2 linked regions of the Homo sapiens genome follow. The protein of the gene in region 1 interacts with the protein of each later gene in a pairwise test. Each region holds a gene or a part of one and is shown in the gene's direction. Other genes may lie near its edges.

Evidence for each region. Proteins that work in one complex are often made in the same cells at the same time.
Region 2: the proteins of TMEM14B (region 1) and PLP2 interact in binary tests that used the Homo sapiens proteins (3 or more experiments, as listed by UniProt).

What each region holds. Positions count from the first base shown.
Region 1 is NC_000006.12:10,743,204-10,750,869, forward strand, and holds the start of TMEM14B (transmembrane protein 14B), read left to right. Parts: upstream 1-4,601; 5' UTR 4,602-4,678; intron 4,679-5,998; coding exon of another isoform or gene 5,999-6,042; coding exon 6,043-6,065; intron 6,066-6,418; coding exon 6,419-6,495; intron 6,496-7,666. UniProt on the Homo sapiens protein: Primate-specific protein involved in cortical expansion and folding in the developing neocortex. May drive neural progenitor proliferation through nuclear translocation of IQGAP1, which in turn promotes G1/S cell cycle transitions.
Region 2 is NC_000023.11:49,167,008-49,174,897, forward strand, and holds the start of PLP2 (proteolipid protein 2), read left to right. Parts: upstream 1-4,890; 5' UTR 4,891-4,993; coding exon 4,994-5,089; intron 5,090-6,121; coding exon 6,122-6,274; intron 6,275-6,380; coding exon 6,381-6,476; intron 6,477-7,327; coding exon 7,328-7,418; intron 7,419-7,664; coding exon 7,665-7,687; 3' UTR 7,688-7,890. UniProt on the Homo sapiens protein: May play a role in cell differentiation in the intestinal epithelium.

The sequences.
Region 1 (7,666 bases):
TGAAAATAAAAAGTTGGAATATACATTTGTTTTTGGGAGTATTCAATACTTTTAAGGAAGATTAATATGTTTGTGAAATACAGGGGAAAGCTTTTAGTACAAGTTAAGTATAGATAAATCTTAGTTTTTAAAACATAGGCAGATTTTATTAGATGTGTTAAGTAGTAAGTAGAACATGTGTTAGACACAGAAAGGAATAGAAAGTCCAGGATACCTAACATTCCTAGCTACCAAGTATACATGAGACACCTGAGCATGAAATATTTGATACATTAAATGTCCAAGAGGCACTAAATACAGTGCATAAAATATACATAAGCATGAAATAGTCATGCTATTCACTTCTGTCCCCAAGTGTCCTCTGTCCAAGAAACACAGTAAAACCCATGGTTGCTCCACAGGCCAACAGGCAAAGCTCAGCTCTTTGCTAGGCTTGCTTGTACCTGCATCTCGGACAGAGCAAGTTTGTGTCATTGGCGTGGGGCACCTTGCCTCTTTGAGTCTCCTTGCTCAAACCTGTCGTCTTCAGCACCACGATCCACAGGAAAGTCAATATCACAGAGAGGGGTGGAGGTTGGGGCAGGTGGGGGATGGTGGCCCCTGAACATTGTATGAGGTAGGCTTTAGGTAGCAGGCATCTTCCACCAGATTTGCACCGTCTCTTGACAGCGTTTACTTATCCCATCTCTTTCCTCTTGCTTTTCACTGTCTCTTTAAATTGATTTAAATAAACTAAGAGATTCAAGCATTTTAATTTGATCTGTGAGCTTTTCTGCTCACTGATCTCTGAGGTAGTATACCTGGAGGCCATCGCATTTCCCACATGATAACAATTCATATCAAAATACGGAATCCATTTGGGGAAGTCAGGTAGATTGCTTCCCTTTTCTTCCTGAGAATGGATAGTCTGCATATAGTCTTAGCCGTCCATGTGTTGAATGATCAACTTTTCTATTTATGTAGAACAGGTTTTAATCACACATACACTCCTTCCTGATACAATTCCCCATGTGTAAGCATCCATCTCCACCTTCCTTGCTCCATTGTTTATCCGACAGCCATGAAGTGAGTGCTCACCATGTGTGCCAGGTGCTATCCTAGATTCTGAGGGCTAAAAGGAAAAACACAACCCTTCTGAAAGACACAGCTTTGGTAAATAAATTAACATATTGAATGCAATGGCCTGGGGCAGTCATGGGCAGCTTGACTGATTAGTGAAATGTTGAGTTTTTGAATGACACAGGGCCCATGATGTCAACTCAATTTTTCATTTTTCTTTTCTTTTTTTTGGAAATGGAGTCTCCCTCTGTCACCCAGGCTGGAGTGCAGTAGAGTGATCTCGGCTTACTACAACCTCTGCCTCCTAGGTTCAAGCGATTCTTCCATCTCAGCCTCCTGAGTAGCTGGGATTACAGGCGTGCACCATCACACCCGGCTATTTTTTTTTTTTTGTATTGTTAGTAGAGACAGCGTTTCACCATGTTGGCCAGGCTAGTCTCGAACTCCTGACCTCAGGTGATCCATGTGCCTCAGCCTCCCAAAGTGATGGGATTACAGGCGTGAGCCACCGCTCACAGCCTATTTCAGATTTTAAAAGACTCTTCACTGCAAGAAACAAATGCAACTCTGGATGTCCTAAGCTTCAACAGAGGACGTGGGGGTAAGTACATGAGAAGGACACAGGTGTATCTGGCTGAGGCCAAGGCAGGAAGAACCAGAGCCAGGGTACAGCCAGGGCAAACTGTACATGTGGCCTTTGTTCTCCTGTCTGCCGACCACCCCTCTCATTTCTCACTCCACATCTACTTGTCCATTCAACACATGTTTACTGAGTACTGGTTATGGGCCAGGCACTGTGCTAAATGCTGCATAAATATCATCACTCCCATGAAACAAACATGCAAAAAAGGGGGAGGTAGGCTCTACGATGATTAAGCCAGTTACAGAGCAGGTTAGCAGGGAATTGTCATGGAAGGAAAGATGCTGTCGGGGGAAATGCAGATGAGTTGAAGTTTTAAATCAGGTGATTAGGGAAGGTCTCTCTGAGAAGTGACATTTGCGTAAAGACAGAAAGGAGGAGAGGGCGTGAACCAGGAGATTGTCTGGGGAGGCGTTCCAGGCAGATGAAGCAGCTGAGGGCAAGAAGGAAACACAAGTGAGGGGGAAAGAGAAGATGCTGATGTCAGGGAGGAGGATGTGTGGGGCTTTGCAAAGCACTGCCTGAGAAAAGGGGTGCCACCAGAGGGTTTTGGGGAGAGAAATGGCACAGTCAGACTTCTAACCCAAGTGCTCTGGTCACTGTGTTGAGAACAGACTAAGAGACAGAAAAAAGACTCTTCACTGCAAGAAACAAATGCAGAGTTAGGACAGCTCTGCCATTTGCTGTGTGACCTTGTAGTCTGTGCCTCAATTTCTTCCATGTGTAAAGCAGGAGATAATCATAGTCGTCACTGCACAGAGTTGGTATGAAGTGTAAGTTAGTTAACATATGTAAAGCGCTTCCAACAGTGGCAGATAATAAGAACTGCATATGCTTCTGCTAATATTTTTATGGCTCCAATGAATATGATCCAGAAGTAGATGGCAGATAGGTTAGGTTAAGAAAATAGGCGGTTTTTTTTTTATGATTTCATTTATTTCTTGGGGAAAGAGTTATTGACCTTGCTCTTCAAACAAACCTATAAAATACTCCCAAAGATGTAGAAATTGGTATTGTAGACACTTGATAGACATGAATTACCTGGGCAGACTGCAACTTGGGATTTGTTTTTGACGTTTTTGTTCAGGGACTTCTTAATTTGTAAAGTCAACACATTCAGGCTCCAAAAATGCTAAACTAATGCTTACATTGAAGCTCAATTCCCTTTCTTCATGAGCTCTTGTGTTGTGGGAGATGATCTCTACTGCTCTTGCTGTGTGAGTACACACCTGTGTGTGTACCTGTGTTTGTCTACCAGACACAATTCTTACTCAAAGCCTCTTTGTGGGAAAAACAAAACAAAACACCCAAACCTACTGATAGGCCTCAGTGACCAAAGACTAGAAACTTAACATTCCCTGACATAATTTTGATTACACCCTTTTGACACATTTGTGTTCCAGGGTTCCGATAATTCAGTGGGCCCCCAGTGAAGAGCTAAGCTATCTCCTAACAACGTTAATGCCAACTAGAAATATTCCCAAACACAAATCATTGATTGTTTTACTCTGGTACTAATTGAAATAGAGCAGAAACCAATTTCTTTAATTTATTTTATGACATGTTTTGATGGACTTTACCTACACAGAAGAGCTATGTGTTCTGGTTGAGGAACGACACTGCAAGAAGCAGCATATGGTAGAATTAAGGACGCAGGCTTTGACATTAGACCTTACTTTAAATAATAGCTCTACCAGTGACCAGGACTGTAGGTAATTTAATTCTCTGAGGTTCAGCCTCTTCAAGTATAAGGTGGGGAAGGGCTCGAGGATCATGGTGGATGATCCTAATTAAGGTTTGAGGCTTGCACCTGCATAGGGAAGAATGAGTCCCTAAAGCCATTCCCTGCTGGTTAAGACAAGTCTCATTAATTGTTCAGGAAAGTCTTCAATTAAATTGAAGGTCTGGCATACTGCAATTCCTGCAAGTTCTTAGTTATTATCAGCTCTGGCTGGTTAGAAGCAGCTATGATAAACACGGGCTTCAATTTAGCTATCTGGAAGGTAGGTGCTGCTGCAAGTGGAAAGTTTGTCTTTAAGAATATGCGCTGCAATTTGCTTTATTCACTGATGATTATATTGATCGGAGTTGTCTATGTTGATACTTGTAGGGGATGAAGGAGAGGGAGAAGTCAACGATGACAGCAAATTTTAGTGTAGAGCAACTGAGCGAATGGTGGTGCAGGAAACACAGAAGAGGAGCGGCTCGGAAGTGGGAATGGAGATAACATCATACTGTGGACATTCGGAATCCACAGAGCTGCGTGGAAATCAGATTTAACTTGCTCTCTCTCCCCATTTAAGATGCTTCTCAAGTAGCCTCACTCCCTAAAACAAACGGATATTTGGCATTGCGCCACATTATTCTGCAGCTGCCATATTTTCTTGCAGGTGGAAGGCAGGCCCTTCCTGGTGTAAACAAACAAGATCGGGCCAGAGTGACAATCCTCCCTGATGGCCCGCACCTGGTTTATACCCTCTATTAATGGGGTCCTTCAAAATCATCAGATGCCCTCCTCCCGCAGCGGTGGCCTCCACCTCTGGCCTGGCCCAGCTTACGTGGTCCAGCTTGTGCAAGATCCAATTCCAACTCCGGGTTTCCGGCTTTTGGCCACTCAGGATTGGACCTGGGACTGGAGCTGGTCGGCCCTGCAGGTGCTGGGCCTGGGGACTGAGGAAGCACAGAGATTCCCCGCCCGGTTCCCCGCCAACGGCGCTAGCCGCGATGCCCCGCCTCACTCCCCGCCCCCGGGATGCAGGGCGCGTGCTGGTAATCCGCGGCTCAAGCCCCGCCCCCACTGTCCCCATTCTCCGCTCACCTCTCTCCAAGGACACTGCGCACGCGCCACGACGTCCCGCCTTTCTCCCCGCCCTGCCGCGGCCCCGGGGCGCAGCGCGCACGCAATCGCGTTTCCGGAGAGACCTGGCTGCTGTGTCCCGCGGCTTGCGCTCCGTAGTGGACTCCGCGGGCCTTCGGCAGGTCGGTGCAGGTCTTTGGAGAGTATTGTTTTTATTTTCTGCCACTTTTAACTTTTAGGGATTATTTAGGAGTTTCACGGCCGTCTGCTTTTCGTCCCCCCGATTCAGCGGGCCTTTATGCCGTGTGGTCGGTGCTTTTCTCCTTGGGTATTTTCTGCTTGTCTTAAAAGAGGCTGTGGATGCTCGGAGCACCTGAGCTCCTGAGGCAAAGGCTTACCCTTGTAGCATAGTGTTGCCTCGTTTCCTGGTGGTTTTGTTGCTCCAGCTCTTTAAAAGCCTCCCTTACTCAGTGCCGCCTCGAGTTAAGAACTGTGGGCAAGATCCCAAGCCCGCTGCCCTTCCCCGTTTTATGGGAAATTAATTCTTTCTTTTTTTGGGGGGTGGGGAGGGGTTCTCGCTGTGTCGCCCAGCCTGGAGTGCAGTAGCCTGAATATGTCTTATTGCAGCCTCTGCCTCCTGGGCTCAAGCCATCCTCCCACCTCAGCCTCCCAAGTAGCTGGGATTACAGGTGCATGCCATCATGCCCGATTTGTGTGTGTGTGTGTGTGTTTTAATAGAATATGGGTTTCACCATGTTGACCAAGCTGTTCTCGAACTCCTAACCTCAGGTAATCCGCCTGCCTGGGCCTCCCAAAGTACTGGGATTACAGGCGTGAGCCACTTTGCCTGGCCTAATTCTTTAAACAGAATAAACGGCGTATGCATTGCTTTCCATCTTGTTAGGTTCACTGCATACAGAATACTTTTCTGTAAGAAAATAGGAGCTGTTTTTCCAAGGGTGCAATGTCACATGTGATTCTGACTTGAGTTTCCGTGTATTTTACCCTCCCCTTCTGCCCTCCTAACGAGAACTGTGAGTTGGATGCAGAAGTTTCTAAAAAAAAAAATTGAGTATTGAAATTGGCTGTTGCATCAGTGAAGAAAAGCAACATCCCTACCACCCCTCAAAAGAGACATTAAAGTAGTTGGATTAAGGGCACGGGAGTATTTGCTTTCCGATTTAGTGATAATGTGAGTGCTTAATGAAATGACTAACACATTCCCTGATTATAGAGCTGGTCAGTGGATCTTGCTGAGTTTCCTGTGGACCTATGTGAAATGATCGGCATCTGTTCAGGGTTTACTAGGTGCTAAGCACCTTTACATGTGACATCCATTGAATGCTCACAACACCCCCAGGAAATTGGTACCAGTGTTATCCTCATGGTACAGTGAAGGATACTGAGACTTAGGTTGCATAGCCTGCAGGTTGGACACACTTCTTTCTGACTGCTGGGGAGCTGTGCTTTTAACCACTGCTGATCCGGCTTGTTTTCCCCAGATGCAGGCCTGGGGTAGTCTCCTTTCTGGACTGAGAAGAGAAGAATGGAGAAGCCCCTCTTCCCATTGTGAGTAGACAGTAAATGGTTAGAGAGTAGCCAGGAGCTTCTGGAAACCAGAGTTCCTTTCCTCAGCTGAAAAGAACCCTAAGAGTAGACTGCCTGGGATGGCGTGCGGGATGGGAGGATCACTGGACCTGTGGGCCAGAAACTTGGGTTTGAGTCCCAGCTCTAGCTTTGCTTAGTTGTGTGACTCTCAGAAAGTCATCCAACCTCTGTGGTGCTTATTTTCAGTGATAGTACCTGTGGGCACATAGGACCTGTGGGGAATGATTACCTTTTAGCCCCATCCTATGACAATATGGTTTGTTTTTAAATCCAGGTTAGCACTGACTTCTCACTGACTTCTCTTGTGTTTTCAGAGTGCCTTTGCATTGGTTTGGCTTTGGCTACACAGCACTGGTTGTTTCTGGTGGGATCGTTGGCTATGTAAAAACAGGTAGGGTTTTGTTGTTACTTAGCCTCTTAACATCTTCACGTTGTTCCAGTGAAATGTGAGTGCCTGTGTCCCTGAGAAGCAATCTCGTTTGACTCAGCTTTGCTGTAGGTCCCCAAGCTGGAGTGCAGGCTTCCTTGTCAGTCTTGCAGCTCCTGCCCTTGCCTTTTGCTTATCTGGTGAAGCTGAGCCAGGCCTCTTGTGGAATTACTTATTTTTGCCTCTTTATCTAAAGGTAGGCAGGGGTGGTTGTAGTTTGTTATTATCATTGACTGCCATTCATCAGCCATGACCCCCAAGTGCCATCTCTGGGCTTAAGTAGGAGTCAACCTCTGGCCTACACAGACTGGTATTTTGAAGTTTCCTCATTAGGCCAGGCAGGGGTGTGTCAGTGGCTGTGCTTGTTTTTGCCCCCTAGTCCTTGCCTGCATTCCCACCCCAATCCCTGCACCAGACTTCTTATTCTCCTGATCTTCTATTTTTTTTTTAACTGCCTGGCCCTATTTCCTTCTGCTTTTGTGATTTGCTGGAGGTCCTGCCTGTACACAATTCCAGCCCTTCATGGTTGATGAGGCCTGATTAGAAAGTGTTGTACTTGAGCGAGTTAGAGAAAACGCCACACTTTGAGACGAATTAAGAGTCTGTTTATTTAGCTGGGGCCTAAAAGACGGCTAACACTCAAAGTTCTCTCGGCCTTGAAGAAGGGGCTAGATTTTCTTTTATACTTTGGTTTAGAATGGGGTGGGGGGGGGGTCTAGTTAAAACAATTTTACTGAAGTAAAGTAGGCAAAAAAGTTAAAAGGATAAATGGTTACAGGAAAGTAAACAGTTCCAGGTGCAGGGGCTTTAAGACTATTACAAGGTGATGGACGCGGGGCTTTGGGCATTATCAATCGGACGAATTCCTGGGAACTGCGGATATAGCTCGCCACAGTATCTTATCAGTTAATTGCATTCTTGGATGTGCTGGGAGTCAGCTTGCACAAGTTAAGTCCTTGAGGACGGGGCTGCCAGTGAAAGAGCCAAGATGGAGTCTGTCTGGCTCTCTTAGCTAAGGAAGAGTCAATTCAGGTGGAAACAAGGCTAGGTGATTAAAGGAAAGGGAGAGTCTAAAAACAGGGTTAGTAAAAACAAGGTTAGGCATTACAAAAGAAGGCCTAGTCATAGTTCTGTC
Region 2 (7,890 bases), on another chromosome or scaffold:
TAGAAGCAGGGCAGCTTCCTTCGCCAGAGGCCTGCGGTCTCCCACTTCCGGCCTAGTCTGCCAGCTTTTGCTGGCACGTAGGCTACCACTCTCCGGGCACCGGCTGGGGTCCTGGAGCCCCCTTTGGGGCGGAGTGGGGAAGGTGTGAGTCAGCGCCCCTGGACGGGCCGGGCTAAAAAAGGCTGTTAGAACCTTTGGGCCGTGCCCCCATTTTCCGTACATGGTGAAGAACTGCAGCCGGGCTTGTGTGCACACGCCACACACTGGGCGTTCCCGGCACGGGAGAGGCCCAGAGTTTCCTTCACCCTGGGAACAGAGCCCTACAGCCAGGGCTTATATGGCCAGCGGGACTCCAACCGGGGTAGCCGCGAGGAAGGCGCTGGCAGAGGACAGAAATGTCCAGTCACCTCCGCTGTCACCACATCCTGAGCACTCGGCCCCATCCCCCCACAGGAGGGAAGCTGTGGTCTGACGGAATGGGCAACTTTCGCCCCTGTGGGGAGGGGACGGGGAAGGAAGAAAGAATTTAAAGGACCGGAATGCGAGAGTCCAGGTGGCCTTGGAGAGGAAAGAGGAACGGTGAAGACAAGCTGCGAGAGCTGGGAGCTGGAGGGTGAAGAGGTGAACACTTGAGTGGTTAGAGCTGTAGATAGACATTGTGGGGAAGTGTGCCAGGGTGGCTTCCAGCTACCCCTGACTTAGAGCCTGGTGGAGGTGTGGTTCTTCAGAAGTCAGCAAAGGGCTCAAGAGCCCCAGTCTATAAATACAGTCACACCCAGGAGACTAATAATAGTAACCCCAGCCACCATGTACTTAGTTTTATCCCTGCTACTGGCTTTATTGCAATATTTATTTTCATCTACAATAGTTGCACATCTACTCAACTATCCGAATATGTCCATTTCGCAGAGGAGGAAAGTGAGGCCCAGGGAGTGCAGATAGCTACAGAGAGGAGGGTCAAAGCACGATTTAATCAAGGCCTGATTCCCAAGTCTGTCCTCTCAATTTCACCTGCATTGACAAGTATTAATTGAACCCCAACTGTATATGTTGCACTGTGCTAGGTACTGTGGAGATGCTGGAGGAACAAGACATAAAATTTCTTTGTGTAGCTGATGTATGTAATGAGAGTAGACAGATGTCAGACAAAAAAGACGAGAAAATGAATAAATAAAAAACCAGGCCAGGCGTGGTGGCTCACGCCTGTAATCCCAGCACTTTGGGAGGCCGAGGCTGGTGGATCACGAGGTCAAGAGTTCAAGAGCAGCCTGGCCAAGATGGTGAAACCCCGTCTCTACTGAAAATACAAAAATTAGCCAGGTGTGGTAGCAGGTGCCTGTAATCACAGCTACTCGGGAGGCTGAGGCAGAGAATTGCTTGAACCCAGGAGGTGGAGGTTGCAGCGAGCCAAGATCGCACCACTGCACTCCAGCCTGGGTGACAGAGCGAGAATCAGTCTCAAAAAAAAAAAAAAAAAAAAAAAAAACTTCAGGCCAGACATGGTGGTTTGTGCCTGTAATCCCAGTACTTTGGGAGGCGGAGGCGGGTGGATTGTTTGAGCCTACAAGTTTGATACCAGCCTGGGCAACATAGACCTTGTCTCTACAAAAAGTTTAAAAATTAGCTGGGAGTGGTGGCTCATGCCTGTAGTCCCAACTACTTGGGACACTGAGGTGGGAGGATCACTTGAGCCTGGGAGGTCAAGGCTGCAGTGAGCCATGATTGCACCATTCCACTCTAGCTGGAGTGACAGTGAGACCTTATCTCAAAAAAAAAAAAAAAAAAAAAAAAAAGGCCAGGCTCGTGGCTTACATCTGTAATCCCAACACTTTGGGAGGCCAAGGCAGGCGGATCACCTGAGGTCAGGAGTTCGAGACCAGTCTGACCAATATGGAGAAACCCCATCTCTACTAAAAATACAAAATTAGCCTGGTGTGGTGGCACATGCCTGTAATCTCAGCTACTCAGGAGGCTGAGACAGAAGAATCGCTTGAACCCGGGAGGTGGAGGTTGCGGTGAGCCAAGATTGTGCCATTGTACTCCAGCCTGGGCAACAAGAGCAAAACTCCTTCTCAAAAAAAAAAAAAAAAAAAAAAGACAATTTCAGAGAGAAGTGAGAGTCATGAAGCTATGAAGCTAGCAAAAGGAGGTTACATTGTGGGAGATGATGGTGAGCTTCTGGCCTCTTTGAAGACATAACTCTTGAGCTGCAACCTGAATGACCAGAAGCCAGGTATATGAAGCACTGAGTGAAGGGCATTGACAGCAGGGGGAATAGCAAGTGCAAAGGTGTTGAAGTGGAACCAGGTTCATCTTGTTTCAGAAATTCAGACGTGTCCTCACAGAGTTGGAAAGCACATACTCATCACTAGGAAAAGTATGTTTCATCCCTTCCACTATTCACTCACTCTTCCGGCAACCGGGGCTGAAAGAGGGGAGCTCTTTCCTTAGTTTTGAGGGGCCCTGTGTTGGCAGAGAGAGCAGGCAGGCCCTTGGGTTGAATCCTCCTGGCCATCCAGTTATGATTCTCCCCCACTTCAAATGAGATGAGAATAAAAACAACTTCTAGTCTGGAGAGTGTGTCCCTCAGGGTACCTCTGGGATCCTGATTCCAGGAGACGAGATGCATGTCTTAGATGCAGAAATTAAGGCTGAGCTGGGGGAAATTACTTGCTCAAAATAACACACTTAGCCAGGCGCAGTGGCTCACGCCTGTAATCTCAGCACTTTGGGAGGCCAAGGCGGGAGAATTGCTTGAGGTCAGGAGTTCAAGACCAGCCTGAGCAACATAACGAGACCTTGTCTCTACTAAAAAATAAATAAATACAAACAAAGTGTCTACAAATGTCACCCAGCCTTGCACCCCAGGAGCCATCCATTCATCTTGCCAATCCCCCAGAAATAAACTTTCCTATTCCTCATGTACGATTGTGCTGACTGGCCCCTCTCTTCAGAACCAGGAAACTGAGGCCCAACATTTAGGGCCAGGACTTCCTTGGGATTGCAGAACACAGAATCAGACCTTGGGCTCTCTGGGCTCTAACACTACTACAAAATATGTTTTTTTAAAATAGAGACAAGCTCTCACTACGTTGCCCAGGCTGGTCTCGAACTCTTGAGCTGAAGTGATTCTCCTACCTCGGCCTCCCAAAGTGCTAGGATTACAGGCATGAGCCACTGCTCCTGGCCTTGGGCTCTAACACTTGAAACAATGCTTGCCCTATTTCTGAGCAACTCAATGCTCACCAACCCCTATTCTCACACAGCCTTTACACTGGCAGGGTCTTATTCTCATCACTGCTCAGAGGTTTATTCCACTGTCCACAATCCATTATCCAAAAACAAAAAGCTCTGGAAACTGATGGTTTTCCCACAAGATAGGCACTATTTGGTTACAAAACCTGACCTGATCTAACGAGGAACAATTTTCTTTCTTCCTTTCTTTTTGTTTTTCCTTTTTTGGAGACAGGGTCTTGCTCTGTTGCCCAGGCAGGAGTGCAGTGGTCTGATCATGGTTCACTGCAGCCTTGAACTCCCAGGCTCAAGCAATCCTCCCACCTCAGCCTCCCGAGTAGTTGGGATTACAGGCACGTGCCACCATGCCTGGGCTAATTTTTTTCTTTTTTCTTTTTTTTTTTTTTTTTTGAGACGGAGTCTTGCTCTGTCGCCCAGGCTGGAGTGCAGTGGCGCAATCTTGGCTCACTACAACCTCCACCTCCCAGGTTCAAGCGATTCTCCTGCCTCAGCCTCCTGACTAGCTGGGATTATAGGCGAGCGCCACCACACCCGGTTCATTTTTTGTGTATTTTTAGTAGAGACGGGGTTTCACCATGTTGGACAGGCTGGTCTCGAACTCCTGACCTCGTGATCTGCCCACCTCGGCCTCCCAAACTGCTGGGATTATAGGCTTGAGCCACCGCGTCCGGCCGCCTGGGCTAATTTTTAAAATTATTTGTAGAGATGAGGTCTCACTGTGTTGCCGAGGTTGATCTCCAACTCTTGGGCTCAAGCGATCCTCCCACCTGAGGCTCCCAGAGTGTTGGGATTACTGGCATGAGCCACTGCGCCCAGCCGAGGAACACTTTTCAATCCTTACCCAGTTATTGTGAACGTTCATACCTTTTCTTGAAGAAATACCGTTTTTGTTGTTGTTGTTGTTTTTGAGACGTAGTTTCGCTCTTGTTGCCCAGACTGGAGTGCAATGGCATGATCTTGGCTCACCGCAACCTCTGCCTCCCGGGTTCAAGCGATTCTCCTGCCTCAGCCTTCCGAGTAGCTGGGATTACAGGCATGCGTCACCGTGCCCAGCTAATTTTTGTATTTTTAGTAGAGACGGTGTTTCTCCATGTTGGTCAGGCTGGTCTCGAACTCCCGACCTCAGGTGATCCACCCGCCTCGGCCTCCCAGTGTTGGGATTACAGGCGTGAGCCACCGCGCCTGGCCCTTTTTTTTTTTTTTTGTAACGCGGCAGCTCCAAACCCCGCTGAGAGTATATGCATGGGAAAACTTTCTGAAATCAAAAATATTCCGAATTCTGGCAACATACTGGGCCCCAAGTCTTTCGGATTTAACTCTGCCTCGGCCGTTTTATTCAGTTAAGGAAACTGAGTCACTCCATCCCAAAGCCAGATTCCCGCGGTTCTAAGCTGAAGCTGTCTCGGGTGCATTTGCATTCCAAAAAGGCGAAGGGTCCCGCTATTACTGCTCCTGGTACCTGGAGCTGCCAAGCACCCCTGCGATGGGGCGCCCCGGGGGCTGTGCGCCAGGCTGGGAGTATCCTTGGGGGGCGGGGCGAGGGGGCTTCCGGGGCGGCAGCCACCTGGCCCGGCTCCGGCCCCGCCCGCGTCAGCTCTGCGCGGTGATTCACTCCCTCCTTCGCCCCGGGGCCCCCTTCCCGGCCAGACGGCGGGCAAGACAGCTGGGTGTACAGCGTCCTCGAAACCACGAGCAAGTGAGCAGATCCTCCGAGGCACCAGGGACTCCAGCCCATGCCATGGCGGATTCTGAGCGCCTCTCGGCTCCTGGCTGCTGGGCCGCCTGCACCAACTTCTCGCGCACTCGAAAGGGAATCCTCCTGTTTGCTGAGATTGTGAGCGTTCTGGGGCAGGCGCGTGGGCAAAAGCGGGATGGGGTGGCTGGACCATGCGGAACTGGATGGTCCGGGTGAGGCAGGCACTTGGCCGGGGCGCTCGGCAGTGGGGTGCAGGTGGGTGGGTTCACGGTGGAGGCCCGAAACCCGGGGCGCAGGGCGAGTCGGTGGGGTTTGACGAAGGTTGTTGAGATCTGGTGGTCCCCGGGGTGAAGCAAGGAGCCTATAACGCATACGGAGGGCTACGTGGGGACAGCCTGCGTGAACTCATCAGTGGACGCATCGAAGGGGTCCCAGGGTGCTGGGAAGTGGGGGCCTCCTGTGGCAGGGCGTGGCGCGGCCTGGGCACAGGAGGGCGGGCTGGCAGCGCGCCCAGGGGCAGGGCCTGTTGGGGTGGGGCCCCCCCGCCCCGCGCTAGTCCCGCGGTGTAGAGCGCCCCGCCCTTCGCCAGTTCTTCCTCGCCCTTCAGAGGCCGGGCGGGATGTCCTTAGCTTTTCGGGGTTTCCACCCTTCTCAAAGTGGGCGCCGCCTTTGAGTCACTTGTAAAAGGGGTGCGGCGCCTTTAACGGAGTCCTGCCTCTCTGGTGTCACTCTCACCGCTTCCCAAAGGGGTTGCTGGGGGAACCGCGTGTTCCGCCCCGGTCAAGGCCACAAAGCTGGCGTCAGCGGGGCTCACAAAACACCTGGCAGCGCCACTCCCCTCAGGCTGCCCGTAACCTAGAAGGGAAAAGAGGAAACTGAGGCACCCAACTCTACTCCTTACTTGTTGGGTGACCCTGGCCAAGCCATTAAACCTCTCTGTGCCTCAGTTTTCTCGTCTATAAATTAGAAAGAGTAATAATAGTACCCAGAGCATTAGATTGTCGTGATGATTGAATTTGGAACACAGTGAGCACATAAAAAGTGTTTAGCTATTATTGTATGTCATTTCCCCAGCCCTCGTAGGCATCTTAGTATGGGACCCCCAATTTAAACCAATCTTCTCAGCCCTGGTTGCTGATTGAGGTCCCCTTTCCCATGTCACCCTTCCAGATATTATGCCTGGTGATCCTGATCTGCTTCAGTGCCTCCACACCAGGCTACTCCTCCCTGTCGGTGATTGAGATGATCCTTGCTGCTATTTTCTTTGTTGTCTACATGTGTGACCTGCACACCAAGATACCATTCATCAACTGGCCCTGGAGTGTGAGAAGGGGTCCACAATGGCAAGACCAGGGAGGGGTCTGGGCAGTTAGGATTGTCGGGGAACTGTGGTTGCTGACTTCCCTCTTCTCCTCCCTACACCTCACAGGATTTCTTCCGAACCCTCATAGCGGCAATCCTCTACCTGATCACCTCCATTGTTGTCCTTGTTGAGAGAGGAAACCACTCCAAAATCGTCGCAGGGGTAAAGGCCATGGGAGCAGCTCTGAAGCACAGAGCGAAGGGTTTGAGGAGCCAGGGACCATTTCTGCCTTTGCTTCTGGCAGAAATCGTGTGACCCACAGCAAGTCACACTTGTCCTCAGACATGGAGGAAAGTCTGGCCCAGGACTTGGTTTTGCCTCCCAAGGTCTTCATTTGCTGTGAAGGGAAGTCCCTTGTCAGACACAAGGACCTTGGTGAGAGGTACAAACAGGCGGCCCCTTTGTCAATGCACTAGACTACCATCTGCAAGAACTTTGTCCCAAATGTAGTAGAAATTGGGGCCGGGCGCAGTGGCTCATGCCTGTATTCCCAGCACTTTGGGAGGCTGAGGCCGAGGCAGGCAGATCACTTGAGGTCAGGAGTTCAAGACCAGCCTGGCCAACATGGCGAAACCCCATCTCCACTAAAAATACAAAAATCAGCCGGGCATGGTGGTGGGCGCCTATAGTCCCAGCTACTCAGGAGGCTGAGGCAGGAGAATCACTTGAACCCAGAAGACAAAGGTTGCAGTGAGCCAAGATCATGCCACTCACTCCAGCCCCAGTGACAGATGGGTGACAGAGTGATACTGTGTCTCAAAAAAAAAAAAAGTATGACTTGAATTGTGCCCCCTACGGGTAGGGCCACAGTGTGGCCTCCCTGTGTTGAGAGGTATAGGAGGAGGGAGAGTGGGGTAGGATGCACTCTCTTGGCCTTTCCCTGGCTTACCAACCCGGTGCTTGAGTCCCATCCTGCGTGGGGCAGGTGCTGGAGGTGGTGGATACAAGAAGATAAGAGACTGAGTAACCTGACCAGCTAATCTAAACCCCCTCACTCCTATCCTGTCCCCCAGGTACTGGGCCTAATCGCTACGTGCCTCTTTGGCTATGATGCCTATGTCACCTTCCCCGTTCGGCAGCCAAGACATACAGCAGCCCCCACTGGTAAGTGTGTGTGTGTGTTGGTTGGGGGTAAGGGGGTTGCTGAGAGGGCAGAGGGAAAAAGGAAAGGGATCTCTTAAAGGCACGAATGCCAACTCTGGTCTCGTATTGGTACTTAGGGCTTTTGTACCAATAGGTACCATAAGCTTCGGTATTCTTGTGTGTAAAATGTTCATGGACTTTGGATCTTGTTTTAAAAAATGGGCATATAGATTCAGCCAATGCTTTCTCTCTTTTCCTCACCTGCAGACCCCGCAGATGGCCCGGTGTAGGCGAACTTCCCTCATTTCTCTCTGCAATCTGCAAATAACTCCTCCATTGAAATAACTCCTCCCCACCCCAACAACAACATTCCCAGCAGACCAACTCCCACCCCCTCTTTGAGGTAAAAGTGCCTTTATTGGGAGACTTTTGTCTTCCAGCCTGCCAATCAACCCTCCTGGGTGTGGCCACCATATGTGTGTGCCTAGGTCCT